2 separate regions of the Homo sapiens genome follow, and region 1 is linked to region 2. Evidence: fine-mapped expression QTL. Tissue or cell type: aorta. Region 2 holds a variant in brackets; the other region holds the start of a gene. All regions are shown on one strand. Distances are from middle to middle.

Region 1 (8,110 bases), 240 kb after region 2:
CTGTAACAAACACCAAAAATGTGGAAGTGGCTTTGGAACTGGGTAATAGGTAATGGCTACAAACGTTTTAGGGTGCATGTTAGAAAAAGCCCAGATTGCACTGAAGAGGTTAACTCTCAGAAGGAAATGTGACTTGGGTTATTGGAAAGTGGAAACTTCAAGAGATAAAAGTCAGCCTATACTTCATTGCTCTCCATTAATTGCTCTTCCCTATCCAACCTTTTCCCCTGGGCACAAATCCTCTATTCCACTCCAGAAATATACAAATTGAATATGCTCTCCAGTACCCACTGCCCACTCACATCCCAGCCTCTTCTATACATGTCCATTTTCAAGGGAAAACCACTGACTTAAGCTCTACTTCATATCAAAAAAACTTTCATTTCCACCCTCTCATCTCAAGACCAAAGCCTTTCTGTGTCTTATTTACTAACCTCAATGATAAGAGCAACTAATCCCTATACTTCACTACTTTCCTAGAATCCCTGTAACATTTTTAACATGTAAAACCTTTCTGTTATTTCTCCCATTAGATTCCTCCAACTAAGACCCTACACTTCTGGAGCAGAATCATGTTTATTCTGTACTCTCCCCAATGCCTAACCCAATACAACATTCTTCCTAATCCATCTATTACTACCTACTACATGAATACCTCGGATCTTCTCTGGAAACGTATCACAGGAAGGCAATGGATTCCTCACCACTGGTTTCCTTTATCGAGAAGTAGTTATTTACCTCCTTAGTCTTATTCTCCCACATGGAATCCCACTAAAATTATTTAATCACAGTATATCAATTTTACCATGCTAAATATCATTTCCGAACTGTACTTATATAAATGCTCTCCTATGCATGACACTAATTTACAAGAAAAAATGAAACCTTTATTGTTATAAATATGGGGTTGATAATGTACGTAACAATATCAAATGAAATCCTACTTTAGGCCAAATATCTATTTTCAAAAGTACATACAACTGTTTTGGACATATATCATCACTCATACGCACCATCAAGCAGTCCTAAATTCACCAGGAAGTTGTCTGCTTCTTCTCTTTAAAGTGTAGGATCTTTCTCTGGCAGATGTGCTATTTGCTCTACCATATTTGGGGACATTCCAGTCCAACTTTGCCTCAAAATATTTCATGAAATTCAGAGTACTTTGTACGTTTCCAAATATACAAAATGTAGCCAACCTGCAACTCAACCTGAGAGAGACAAGACTATGTCAGATCTGGGATGTAATCTGGAGAAAATAATCTACCTCTAAGTGAGGATAGTTACCTTCCAGGCAATTCATTGTTCCTCTCCAGCTTTTAAATCCCTTAATCTCAATTCTAGACAATGGATTCACTTGATCATTTGTCAAGCAAAATCTCTCCACCCTAGCAGTTAAAAACTAAAAGTGGCCAACTAGACCTAAATCCATGTAAAGTTACATATCAAGGATTTCCAAGAGTCTCTCTGAATAGCTTCAACTTGTAGAAATATACTAAACTCTGAGACCAGCCTCTATTCCTCACAGTTAGGTACATTTAAATGCATCTGAAAAGGAAAGATGTCTTTAAGGGTCAAGCAGAGCAATGTCTAGGTGATAGGACTTTGAAGCACACTAAAAATTGACTAAAGATCCCTCCCTTTCCAAGCCACAACCTTCAGGCCTAGTCAATAAAAAGGAGTGTGGTAAAGGGACAAAGAAAACCAGAACTAGAGAAGGTAAGTGAAAAGAATAAACACAGAAAGGATCAAAGGAAAAAAAAAGGAACATATGTAAGAAATAAGGTACACCATAATCTATTAGTAATATGTTGAGAATAATCTTCATTAGTTTGTTTGTTTTGGCAAATGAGATAGGGAAGAAGAACGGAGAGTCAAGGGGTACCCAAAACTAGTTTTGCCTACATTGCACACAAGGGTACAGGTGCCTCCATCCAAAGCTTAGTATTGTATTAGAAGATCAAGTCAAGGAACGTTTTGCTAGGCTTTTATTTTTATTTTTTATTTATTTACTTATTTATTGAGTCAGAGTCTCGCTCTGTCACCCAGGCCGGAGTGCAGTGGCGCGATCTCGGCTCAATGCAACCGCTGCCTCCCGGGTTCAAGCGATTCTCCTGCCCCAGCCTCCCTAGTATCTGAGACTACAGGTGCGAGCCATCACGCTCCGCTAATGTTTGTATTTTTAGTAGAGACAGGGTTTCACCATGTTGGCCAGCCTGGTCTTGAACTCCTGACCTTAAGTGATCCACCCACCTCGGTCTCCCAAAGTGCTGGGATTACAAGCGTGAGCCATTGCGCCTGGCCAAGTTTTGCTAGGTTTTTAAAACACTATTGTTTGCCAAAATTCCATCAGGTGCTAAGGCATACATTATACAAATTTAGATAGTTCCAACATTACAAGATGTTCATTGTAATCACTCATACCCAAATTCAACATGTAAAACTCCCAAGCCCGAAACCATCACCTCCTCCTCGTTAGTTTTCAGATAAGGTGTTATTTATTCTATAAAGGGTAACCTAAACCAGGAATTTCTAGGGAAACACGAAGGGGATGTTTACATCAAACTGTCTACAAGGCAGGACGAGGCAGTCTGATCACTTATCAGATTCCTTCTCTATGACATCAAGGAACATGGAGAAGTTTTCCTTCTACGCTGGTGAAGTCATGGTCCTCTTATCTATCTGATGATACCTAGGAAACACTAGCCTCCAACCGCAGCCCCTACTGCAAAAAGGCAGTCAGTGCCCATTGCCGGGGTCTTCCCAAGCGGAGCACCTCAAAAGCCGCACCGCGCAGTAGAGGTCTCCAGGGGCCCCCACTCGCCCCCAGTGACTACGGAGCGGCCTCTACCTCCCGCCGGCGCCTGGCCACTTCTCCTCCCCCGCAGTCTCCGCTTGATTTCCATGTGACTGCAGGCAAGAATAGCCCAGCCTTTGTGCCTCTGCAAAGAACGCAAACAAAAATGTACACCATCACCACCCAACAAACGCGCAACTCCGCAAGACACAAAGCGTCTCCCAAACATCGCTTCCCTGGTAACATCCGGCATCCTGGGGCTGCCAAATCGCAGACAAAGACGCCCATCAGCGCGGGGGGTGAGGAGACTAAGGGAGAGACAAGACCAACGTGCTCCCACCAACGGGAGCGGCGGTTAAAAGGGCGCCGGTGCCAGGGGTGAGGGACGGGGCACCGGTACCAATTAGCGGCTCGCCTCGGGGTCCCCGCGGCTAAGGCGAGAACGCAGGACCAGGAGCATTGCTGCCCACTCTCTACCGCAACCCGCACATCCCGGGACCACGTAACGGCGGATGGGGCGTCCGGGAGCGGCCCCTGCAGGGGAGAGCAACAGGCTCCCGCGCCCTGGAGGCCTGGTCTGCGCTCCGGGCCCCCAGGCTAACACCCCACCCCCAGCCCCCCGACACCAAGACTGTGCCCCTCTGGGTCAAGGAAAAGGAAAAACTTTTAAACCTCTTAGTCAGCGAGAGCAAAAGAAAGGGGTGGCGGGGGTGCTGAAAGGTCTAGGATTATCCACCGCGGGGCTGGGGGGAGTGGAGACTTGCGAGTAGCAAAGGAAACTTCTAGACCCCATCCTTTTAAAAAAGCCACAGCAGCGGCTTCCGCGAAGCGCCGGGCCGCGCGGGGTGGGGCAAGCGCACCGCCCCACCGCCCCACGGCCCGCCGCCACCCCTACCCCCACCCCCACCCCCACCCCCATCCCCGCCCCCACCCCCACCCCCAAGCGCCGAGCCCAGGGCGCCCGCGCACCTTCCCCGCCGGCGCGCGCGCAGGGCGCGGGGGCGCGCCTCGGCCTCTGGGCCGGGGCTCAAGCGCCGCTTACCCGGCTCGCGGCGCCCGCCCAGGGCCGCGACGCGAGGGGGCGGAGGACTGGGGAGCAGGGGTCGCCGGGGCCTCTGGATGCCTCGCCTCGCCCACGCTCACTGTCTTCTCTTCTGAAGTAACGACCCGGCGAGGAGCTTCGGATCAAAACGCACAGACACTCACGCGTGACTGAGAAACTTAATCCCGCGGTGGCCCGACGCCAGCCTAGCGCTCCGCCGCGCCCCCTCCCCCAGCGCGCGCCGCACTTGCGCCGACCGGGGCTGCCGCGGAGGCGGTGGCGGGGCCCAGGCTGCTGGGGCTGCCGTGACGCCTGCGACCGGCGGGGCGGCGGGCGCGCCTTGGCCAATCAGGGGACGCGGCCGAGCAGGCCTGTGCGGGGTTTTAAACTCGCTCCTGGGCCGCTCGACCTGGGGTGTGGGTAGTGGACTTGTGAGGTGGTCAGATAAAATATAGGCTGCTCTGTTAAATGGGAATTTCAAATAAAAAAAAAAAGGAATAATTTTAGTACAAGTATATCCCATGCAATATTTGGGACGTACTTATGCTAAAAAGTTCTTCGTTGTTTATCGGAAATTCAAATTTAATGGCAGTCTTGTATTTTTATCTGCCGATTTTGTCAACCTGCGGAAACTGATAGCCTGTTTCTAGCTCCTCAGATTTTCCTTATGTGCACTGCCCTGTGGATGCTTTCTGCATGGGTAGCTTACTGAATGGCATAGGATGCTTATGAGAAGCGCTTTAATCAGAAGGGTGGGGGCAGTCCTCTCACTTTCTAAGTAACTTTTCGCACATCAGGGTGCATTCTTAGTCTGATGATCCAATTAAAAAGCAAAAACAGTAAACATGGAAAAGTTATTAGAGTTGCATGGCCCCAGGAAGAACAGATATTCATTTCTATTTTGTGCCACTTAAGATTTTCTTTCTGTTATCCTCAATTTGGAAGTCCCACGAATTTTTTTCTGCATAAGAAACTCTTTTTCAAAATATCCCTCTGATATTAGATTATAGGACCAAAGGATACTCAGAAGTCCAATTTAGAACATTTAAAAGAATTTCTTTTAATATTCTGAATAAAAATACTTTTTTCTCATATTCCTTGGACTTTCAAACACATTCACAGCTGTTGACCTCTCTCTTCCTAGAGTCCTCCCCACCCCACCCCTCTTGTAATTCCATGCAATCACACTCTTGGTTTTGCTTCTTCCGCTTAGTCAAGGGCGGATGTATGGGCTCTGAAGCTTGTACAATTGGGAGCTCTGCTTTAACCAAAAAAAAAAAAAAAATCTTTCTTTAGAAAAATTCAAAAAATAAATGCCCATGTAAACACATTGCTAGGGTTGCTCCCAGGCAAGAGAAGGACCCGGAACGTTAAGCTACATCAATTTCCAGGTAGATCTGCCCCTGTCCCCAGGCCACTCTTCAGTCTTCTTTGCCTCCTCTCCCCCAATCTTTAGATGCTGGAATTCCTTAAAAATCAGTTACGGGCCCTCTTTTCCTTTTAACTCTTACCTCTAAATACATTTTCACTTCTAGCTTATGATCTCGTACCTACAGAATCTTACATTTATACCTTCAGATTTATCCATATATTCAAGTGTTTATTTGGCTTCCCTGTTTGCTTGTCTCAAACCTAGATTGCAAAAAAAAATGCAGCCGTGATACTTCTGCTCAAGCCTGGTCATCTTGTTCAGTGTCCCAGTGAATGGAACTGCCATAGATGCTACATGATTCCCACAAACTACGATAAACCCATTGTGATGCATTCTTATGGTACCCTATGCTTTTGCTTCATAATATTTTTCCTACTTTGTAAATATGCATTTGATTTTGTAATTATGCAATGTCTCTTCCCTCTTCAACCATAAACTCCATGAGAACAGGGGCTAAGTCACCATTTTATCCTCAGAGCCTAGTAAAAACTTCACACTTGGTTGGCACTCATATGAAATAGGATGAATATACGACTGCAAGAATGAATAATTTCTCCATATAACTTTTGTGTTCTTGTCATAGAGTCACCTCAAGGCATCCCATTTGGAAAGGATTTTCTTATTGCTTAGAAATTCCAAAGGGATCCTCCTGTTTGAATAGCACTTCTACTTGTCAGTTTTCAAATCTGGTCATTCTCAAATACAAAGGAAGTACGTGCATGAAATGTTAGCTGCTGGGGTAGTGTAGGAGGAAAAGAATTTCATAACTAGCTACTGAAGGAATTCTTTGAGTCCTAAAATTTTAAATGGCATTTTTTATATTGAACCATAGGGAAAGAGCCCATAAAACTGAATTAGAGGAAAGTTTTAGAAATTTAATTCCCTGGTTTATTGTGGATAAATGAGATTAAAACAAATAATTTTACCTTGGTTTAAAAGGTGCTATTGTTCTAGTCTCCTTTAGCGAAGCAAAGCCCACATGCCCTCTTTAAACAGCAGTATATCAGAGGATAAAAAGGCATCTGGTTTAGATTAGTCCTTGCATAAAATTATCCAGAGTTTGGGGATAATTCCACCCTGAAGCTTCTCCTTTTGAAGTTAATCCGTATAGCTATTGCTCTATTCTCTTTAACTTGTTCTAATCCAGAAAACCTAAGATTTTCTAGAAATCCACCGGGGATATAGTGCACTAGTTTAAAAAAAAATACCTAAAATAAAAGTTAAAAACATTAAAGTTGAAATAAAATCTTGCAGAGAAAGACAAAGTGTAAAGCAGATAGAGTAGAGGTGCTCTACTCTATGGGATGGCTTGAAACCCCATACGTAAATAGATTAATAATGCTTTCTATTTCATGTTAATACAGGCTCTGGGGTCATTCCACCTATATCCTCAGTGAGGCATTCTCCACAATAATTTGTTTTTCTCAAATTTGAGTCATATTCAGAGGACTTTTATAAGGGAAAAAGTCCTGGAAACTTCTGAGATTGGTTTAAATTATTATTGTTGGTTTATTATTTATTGTTCATCATAATTGAACAGTACAAATATAAACTATGTATATGATATTATTTTACATTTGTGGCTCCTCTCCAACTCTAAAACTAGTGAAAGGCCCGGGTTATCTACTCAAAACCTTTAACGGCTGCTGAAAAGACAGATCCTGGAAATTAAACTTTTGATCCACCAAAATAACAGAGGATTCTTTTAGTTGCCTGCTGAGCACACAGTCTTCATTCTGCTTTTTAACAGCAGATAGCCAAGACGTAGGTGAGACCCCCATGCTGGGAGATGTTACTACAGAACTGCAGGGTTAGAACTCTATGAACCAAATCCTTTCCCAAGGACTGATTTGGGGTAATCCTAATAGTGGGGTGATGGGCTATTTTTATCACCTTTAGCCAGCAGTGACTCTTATTAATAATGCAGCATTTAAATGCAAACTAGATGGCATGCTTGCCAGTCCCTCTACCTAAGGGATATCTAATATATAACAACTGTGCAGTTTTAGTTTATTATAGTTTGTAGATTTTTTATGTTGTCTACTGGCTGACTGACTTTATGGTTTCAATTTGCCTCAGATGTCTCAATTAAAAGAAGAGTTCAGATAAATTTTTTTTCAGTTTGTTCAATGTTAAAAAGCATTTTAAATAATCCTTAATTTTTTCTCTCCATTGAAAAGAAGTCAAGGTTGAAAAAAGAAGATAAAGAAGAAAGAGAAGAACATTAGGATAATGGATATATATGTGTCTAGGAGAAAGCCATTAGGGGGAGAGAATGACTAAGAGAGAATCCCAGGAATGAGAAAAATGTAAAAATTATTTCTCTTTTGAGAACATACAGAGTAATCTGTCTCTCTTCATATAACAAACTGTTTATAGAGAGATAAAGGCTCTGAAATCTCCAGTGTGTCTGATTAGGCCTCATCTCTCTAAGCATGAAAGAAAGGGCATTGGGAGGTCATGACCTTCTGACCTTGAATTCATTTGCATTTGTACCCACAAAATTCTAACTCTATAAGGAAATTCCAGGAGAAAGCATTGGGGCCAGGTTAATTTTAGGAAGAAACACATCCAAACTGTTCCAGAATCTGTGCCTCAAGTTTATGCCAGCTAGAATGACATTTTGAACTATCTTACAAAATATCTTCCCTGTTATGCATACTCTGAGGGCATAAGTGAGTTATCCAAAAAGAAAATCAAGAAAAACAATAACAATAGTGAAAAGAATTTGTTCAAGTTGCATAGTATCTTTTAGGTAATACTCCCCCTTCATGATGGCAGAAAGAACAGAGGGGAAAAAATTGAGCTATTGAAAACACCACTGAGTCAGTGGATTATG
Region 2 (8,110 bases):
AGCTCCATACATATTAACAGTTGCCAAGAAGCTGTCAGAACGGAACTGGGGTACTGTCCACCTGAAGCTGGTATTTTCTTTGTTCTGTGACAGGCCAAATTCTGTGTACTCCTTTTTTTTTTTTTTTTAGAAGAACATTTTGAATGCTGTTTAAATTGTGTATCTGTAGTTCAGGATAGTTATTTTTACTTTGCCCTTCATTGGCCCCTGCAAGTACCTATCCTTCCTAAGCAAAATAACCAAGAGAGCAAATGGTGTCCTAAGTCATTATAATCCCCTCAGCTAGGGAAATTGAAACCTAAGCCTTTGCCAACATATACAGAAGAAGTAGACAGTTACAGACGATTGCTACGTTCAGTGCAGATTGGAAAAGTTGGAGAACAAAAATAAGTTACATGATAATCACTTACCTGTTAAGAATTAAAAGTGAGTTTAGAAAGTAGATAACTAATGCAGTTTTAAAAAATGGAAAGAGTAGCCCGGCATGGTGGCTTGTGCCTGTAGTCCCAGCTGCTACAGAGTCTGAGCAGGGAGGATCACTTGAGCCCAGGAGGTCGAGGCTGCCGTGAGACATGATCACGCTACTGCACTTTAGCCTGGGTGGATGACAGAGAGACCCTATCTCAAAAAAAAAAAAAAAAAAGAAAGAAAGAAAGGGAATGGGGATAGAAGTTTTTAATTCAGTCTTTAAAGTGGGGTTTTCTTTTCTTTTTGATTGAGGCAAGCATTATATACGAGGGCTTGCTCCAAGGTTTATGTTTTGTTATAATTTACATTTAATAAAGTGTATTCATTTAAGGAAATAATCCAGTGAGTTTTGACAAATGTGTATACACTAATGTAAAACACTGCCACAATCAAGACGCATGACTTTTCCAATGCGTGAGAATGTTTCCTCATGATCTCTCAGGCCAGTCCCTGCCCTCACTGGTTTCTATTACCTGAGAACACTTCTACCTGACTTTGACCTTCATGTAAATGGACTCACACAGTATACATGCGTTTTTTGTGTCTGGCTTCTTTTGCCCAATATATTTTTGATGTTCATCCACACTGTAGAGTGCATTTGTACTTTATTCTTTTATTGCTGAATAGTGTTCAACTATATGAACATAATTTTTTATTCGTTTTCTTCGTAAATCCTTAAAATGTTTCCAGTTTTGACTACTATCACTAAAGCTTCCATAAACATTCTTATATATGTATTTGTGTGGATATATGCTTTCTTTTATTTAGGTGAATACCTAAGAGTGGAATTGCTGGGTCATAGGGAAGTTGTAGGTGTTTAATATTACAAGACACTGCCAACATTTTTCAAAGTGGTGGTGTTCCTTTCCTAGGAATTCCATAACAAAATACCAAAAACTGGGTGGATCAGAACAAGAGAAATTTATTCTCTGAGTTCAGGAGTCCAGGAGTCCAGTATCAAGGTGTTCTCAGAGCCACACTCCCTCTGACAGCTCTAGGAAAGAATCCTTCCTTGCCCCTTCCAACTTCTGGTGGTTGCTGGCAACCCTTGGCATTCCTTAGTTTGTGGCAGCATAATTTCAATCTCTGCCTCAAGCTCATCTGTCTTCACTTGGCCTCTTCCCTGTATGTCTCCTCTGTGTCTCTGTGTATCAATTTCCATCCTCTAATAAGGACACCAGTCATTTGATTTAGGACCCATTCTAAACCAGCATGACCTCATTATAACTTGATTACACCTGTAAATATCCCATTTTCAAATAAGGTCACATTCTGAGGTTCCAGTTAGACATGAAGTTGGGGGACACTATTCAACCCCATACAGTGGTTGAACAGTTTTACAATTTCCACCACATGTATGAGAATTCCAGTTTCTTCACATCCTCAGCAGTGCTGGATATTGTCATTGTCAATTCTAAAATTTTAGCCATTGTTGTGTGTGTGTAGTGGTACCTCATTTGGGCTTCAAATTTCAATTCCCAGATAACAATTGATGTTGAGCTTCTTTTCATGAACTTGGCCATTTAGGGATCTTCCTTTAGAAAAGTATCTGTCTTTTGCTCATTTAAAAATTAGGCTATTTTTCTTCTTTTAAATTGATTTTTAGGAGTTTTTTATGTCATTTTTAGGAGAGATAAATCGTTTGTCGGATACATGTATTGCAAATACTTTGTCTCCCAATCTGTGACTTCACTTTTCATTTCCTCTTTTTTTTTTTCTTTCTGAGATGGAGTCTCACTGTGTTGCCCAGGCTGGAGTGCAGTGGCACAATCTCGGCTCACTACAACCTCCACCACCCAGGTTCAAGCCATTCTCCTGCCTCAGCCTGCCAAGTAGCTGGGATTACAGGTGGCGATCACTGCAACCTGGCTAATATTTTGTATTTTTAGTAGAGATGGGGTTTTACCATGTTGGCCAGGCAGGTCTCAAACTCCTGACCTTAAGTGATCCACCCCCTGGGTCTCTCAAAGTGCTGGGATTACAGGTGTAAGCCACCATGCCCGGACCACTTTTCATTTTCTACAGTCTTTCAATCAATGGAAGTTTAATTCAGGTAAAGTCAAATTTTTAACTCTTTCCTTTATATTTATTGCTTTTTGTGTCCCCTCTGAGCAATCCACCCAAACTTAAAGCTGCAAAAATATTGCATTTTCCTCCAGAAGCTCTATAGTTTTACGGTACCACAATGATTCTAAGAGACCTGCAGCCCTAACCACATAGCTAAAACTATAATCTATCCTAAACTGATTTTTGCATATGCTGTAAGAATTAAAGTTCATTTTTTCCCCACATTTGTGTAGTTGTTGTGGCTCTATTTGTTGAAAAGAAACTTCTTTCTCCATTAAACAGCATTAACTGAAAAATTGTTGACTGTTTACGTTGTGTTGAAAATTAATTAATGGCATATATTTTGTTCCAACCATCTCCTTGCCTGCTCACGCCATATTGTTTAGGTTACTATCATTTTATAGTCTTAAAGTCAGATAGTGTGAGTCGTCCAACATTGTTCTTTTGACGGGTAGTATCGTCTCTTATAGATACTTTTCATTTGCATGTAAATTTCAGAATTAACTTTTCCGTTTCCACCAAAAAAGAAAAAATACCTTTTTGGATTTCACTGGGATTAAATTGAATTTATAGTAAGTAGGCTTTTTAATAGTTAATTTGTAAAACCCATTTCTTGCTCAGAAAGCCTCATCTTCTAATCTTATTTAATTTTCCCAAAAGTGTCTTGTTTTTGAAAAATATGTATAAATGTCTCAAGCCAGATCAGAACCTATTTTGAAAATCTTGGAAATCATCCAATCCATTTTAAGCAACTCTGCCTTGAAAAAAGAAACTTCTTCCCGATAATTTAAGTCTGTGGAAAGATTTTTCTGACATTAAAAAATGTACATACTTGGAGGGAGGAGCCAAGATGGCCGAATAGGAACAGCTCCGGTCTACAGCTCCCAGCGTGAGCGACGCAGAAGACGGGTGATTTCTGCATTTCCATCTGAGGTACCGGGTTCATCTCACTAGGGAGTGCCAGACAGTGGGCGCAGGCCAGCGGGTGCGCGCACCGTGCTCGAGCCGAAGCAGGGCGAGGCATTGCCTCACTCGGGAAGCGCAAGGGGTCAGGGAGTTCCCTTTCCGAGTCAAAGAAAGGGGTGACGGACGCACCTGGAAAATCGGGTCACTCCCACCCGAATACTGCGCTTTTCTGACCGGCTTAAGAAACGGCGCACCACGAGACTATATCCCACACCTGGCTCGGCGGGTCCTACGCCCACGGAGTCTCGCTGATTGCTAGCACAGCAGTCTGTGATCAAACTGCAAGGCGGCAGCGAGGCTGGGGGAGGGGCGCCCGCCATTGCCCAGGCTTGCTTAGGTAGACAAAGCAGCCGGGAAGCTCGAACTGGCTGGAGCCCACCACAGCTCAAGGAGGCCTGCCTGCCTCTGTAGGCTCCACCTCTGGGGGCAGGGCACAGACAAACAAAAAGACAGCAGTAACCTCAGCAGACTTAAATGTCCCTGTCTGACAGCTTTGAAGAGAGCAGTGGTTCTCCCAGCACGCAGCTGGAGATCTGAGAACGGGCAGACTGCCTCCTCAAGTGGGTCCCTGACCCCTGACCCCCGAGCAGCCTAACTGGGAGGCACCCCCCAGCAGGGGCACACTGACATCTCACATGGCAGCATATTCCAACAGACCTGCAGCTGAGGGTCCTGTCTGTTAGAAGGAAAACTAACAAACAGAAAGGACATCCACACCAAAAACCCATCTGTGCATCATCATCATCAAAGACCAAAAGTAGATAAAACCACAAAGATGAGGAAAAAAGAGAACAGAAAAACTGGAAACTCTAAAAAGCAGAGCGCCTCTCCTCCTCCAAAGGAACGCAGTTCCTCACCAGCAACGGAAGAAAGCTGGATGGAGAATGACTTTGACGAGCTGAGAGAAGAAGGCTTCAGACAATCAAATTACTCTGAGCTACGGGAGGACATTCAAACCAAAGGCAAAGAAGTTGAAAACTTTGAAAAAAATTTAGAAGAATGTATAACTAGAATAACCAATACAGAGAAGTGCTTAAAGGAGCTGATGGAGCTGAAAACCAAGGCTCGAGAACTACGTGAAGAATGCAGAAGCCTCAGGAGCCGATGC[G/C]ATCAACTGGAAGAAAGGGTATCAGCAATGGAAGATGAAATGAATGAAATGAAGCGAGATGGGAAGTTTAGAGAAAAAAGAATAAAAAGAAATGAGCAAAGCCTCCAAGAAATATGGGACTATGTGAAAAGACCAAATCTACGTCTGATTGGTGTACCTGAAAGTGATAGGGAGAATGGAACCAAGTTGGAAAACACTCTGCAGGATATTATCCAGGAGAACTTCCCCAATCTAGCAAGGCAGGCCAACATTCAGATTCAGGAAATACAGAGAACGCCACAAAGATACTCCTCAAGAAGAGCAACTCCAAGACACATAATTGTCAGATTCACCAAAGTTGAAGTGAAGGGAAAAACGTTAAGAGCAGCCAGAGAGAGAGGTCGGGTTACCCTCAAAGGGAAGACCATCAGACTAACAGCAGATCTCTTGGCAGAAACCCTACAAGCCAGAAGAGAGTGGGGGCCAATATTCAACATTCTTTAAGAAAAGAATTTTCAACCCAGAATTTCATATCCAGCCAAAGTAAGCTTCATAAGTGAAGGAGAAATAAAATCCTTTACAGAAAAGCAAATGCTGAGAGATTTTGTCACCACCAGGCCTGCCCTAAAAGAGCTCCTGAAGGAAGCGCTAAACATGGAAAGGAACAACGGGTACCAGCCGCTGCAAAATCATGCCAAAATGTAAAGACCATCGAGACTAGGAAGAAACTGCATCAACTAACGAGCAAAATAACCAGCTAACATCATAATGACAGGATCAAATTCACACATAACAATATTAACTTTAAATGTAAATGGACTAAATGCTCCAATTAAAAGACATAGACTGGCAAATTGGATAAAGAGTCAAGACCCATCAGTGTGCTGTATTCAGGAAACCCATCTCACGTGCAGAGACACACATAGGCTCAAAATAAAAGGATGGAGGAAGATCTACCAAGCAAATGGAAAACAAAAAAAGGCAGGGGTTGCAATCCTAGTCTCTGATAAAACAGACTTTAAACCAACAAAGATCAAAAGAGACAAAGAAGGCCATTACATAATGGTAAAGGGATCAATTCAACAAGAAGAGCTAACTATCCTAAATATATATGCACCCAATACAGGAGCACCCAGATTCATAAAGCAAGTCCTGAGTGACCTACAAAGAGACTTAGACTCCCACACATTAATAATGGGAGACTTTAACAGCCCACTGTCAACATTAGACAGATCAACGAGACAGAAAGTCGACAAGGATACCCAGGAATTGAACTCAGCTCTGCACCAAGCAGACCTAATAGACATCTACAGAACTCTCCACCCCAAATCAACAGAATATACATTTTTTTCAGCACCACACCACACCTATTCCAAAATTGACCACATAGTTGGAAGTAAAGCTCTCCTCAGCAAATGTAAAAGAACAGAGATTATAACAAACTTATCTCTCAGACCACAGTGCAATCAAACTAGAACTCAGGATTAAGAATCTCACTCAAAACCGCTCAACTTCTTGGAAACTGAACAACCTGCTCCTGAATGACTACTGGGTACATAACGAAATGAAGGCAGAAATAAAGATGTTCTTTGAAACCAACGAGAACAAAGACACAACATACCAGAATCTCTGGAACACATTCAAAGCAGTGTGTAGAGGGAAATTTATAGCACTAAATGCCCACAAGAGAAAGCAGGAAAGATCCAAAACTGACACCCTAACATCACAATTAGAAGAACTAGAAAAGCAAGAACAAACACATTCAAAAGCTAGCAGAAGGCAAGAAATAACTAAAATCAGAGCAGAACTGAAGGAAATAGAGACACAAAAAACCCTTCAAAAAATTAATGAATCCAGGAGCTGGTTTTTTGAAAGGATCAACAAAATTGATAGACCACTAGCAAGACTAATAAAGAAAAAAGAGAGAAGAATCAAATAGACACAATAAAAAATGATAAAGGGGATATCACCACCAATCCCACAGAAATACAAACTACCATCAGAGAATACTACAAACACCTCTATGCAAATAAACTAGAAAATCTAGAAGAAGTGGAGAAATTCCTCGACACATACACCCTCCCAAGACTAAACCCGGAAGAAATTGAATCTCTGAATAGACCAATAACAGGATCTGAAATTGTGGCAATAATCAATAGCTTACCAACCAAAAAGAGTCCAGGACCAGATGGATTCACAGCCGAATTCTACCAGAGGTAGAAGGAGGAACTGGTACCATTCCTTCTGAAACTATTCCAATCAATAAAAAAAGAGGGAATCCTCCCTAACTCATTTTATGAGGTCAGCATCATTCTGTTACCAAAGCCTGGCAGACACACAACCAAAAAAGAGAATTTTAGACCAATATCCTTGATGAACATTGATGCAAAAATCCTCAATAAAATACTGGCACAACGAATCCAGCAGCACATCAAAAAGCTTATCCACCATGATCAAGTGGGCTTCATCCCTGGGATGCAAGGCTTGTTCAATATACGCAAATCAATAAATGTAATCCAGCATATAAACAGAGCCAAAGACAAAAACCACATGATTATCTCAATAGATGCAGAAAAAGCCTTCGACAACATTCAACAACCCTTCATGCTAAAAACTCTCAATAAATTAGGTATCGATGGGACGTATTTCAAAATAATAAGAGCTATCTATGACAAACCCACAGCCAATATCATACTGAATGGGCAAAAACTGGAAGCATTCCCTTTGAAAACTGGCACAAGAAAGGGATGCCCTCTCTCACCACTCCTATTCAACATAGTGTTGGAAGTTCTGGCCAGGGCAATTAGGCAGGAGAAGGAAATAAAGGGTATTCAATTAGGAAAAGAGGAAATCAAATTGTCCCTGTTTGCAGATGACATGATTGTATATCTAGAAAACCCCATCGTCTCAGCCCAAAATCTCCTTAAGCTGATAAGCAACTTCAGCAAAGTCTCAGGATACAAAATCAATGTACAAAAATCACAAGCATTCTTATACACCAACAACAGACAGAGAGCCAAATCATGAGTGAACTCCCATTCACAATTGCTTCAAAGAGAATAAAATACCTAGGAATCCAACTCACAAGGGATGTGAAGGACCTCTTCAAGGAGAACTACAAACCACTGCTCAAGAAAATAAAAGAGGATACAAACAAACAGAAGAACATTCCATGCTCATGGGTAGGAAGAATCAATATCGTGAAAATGGCCATACTGCCCAAGGTAATTTACAGATTCAATGCCATCCCCATCAAGCTACCAGTGCCTTTCTTCACAGAATTGGAAAGAACTACTTTAAAGTTCATATGGAACCGAAAAAGAGCCCGCATCGCCAAGTCAATCCTAAGCCAAAGGAACAAAGCTGGAGGCATCACACTACCTGACTTCAAACTATACTACAAGGCTACAGTAACCGAAACAGCATGGTACTGGTACCAAAACAGAGATATAGATCAATGGAACAGAACAGAGCCCTCAGAAATAACGCCGCATATTTACAACTATCTGATCTTTGACAAAC

What was found. PIP is the estimated chance that this variant, and not a neighbour inherited with it, causes the effect.
Region 1: MPDZ starts here. The variant in region 2 is fine-mapped to the expression of MPDZ in aorta (GTEx, PIP 0.99).

What each region holds. Positions count from the first base shown.
Region 1 is chr9:13,275,561-13,283,670 of GRCh38, forward strand. It overlaps MPDZ (multiple PDZ domain crumbs cell polarity complex component), which reads right to left and starts at 4,132. Exons shown (of 47, transcript NM_001378778.1): 1 at 3,840-4,132. RefSeq lists enhancers at 1,608-2,323, 2,324-3,039, 3,040-3,755.
Region 2 is chr9:13,034,514-13,042,623 of GRCh38, forward strand. It overlaps the pseudogene LOC100130801. Among named protein-coding and RNA genes, the nearest start is that of SNORD137, 66 kb to the left of the region's middle. RefSeq lists an enhancer at 3,056-3,572. The variant G/C (reference allele first, on the strand shown) is at 4,610.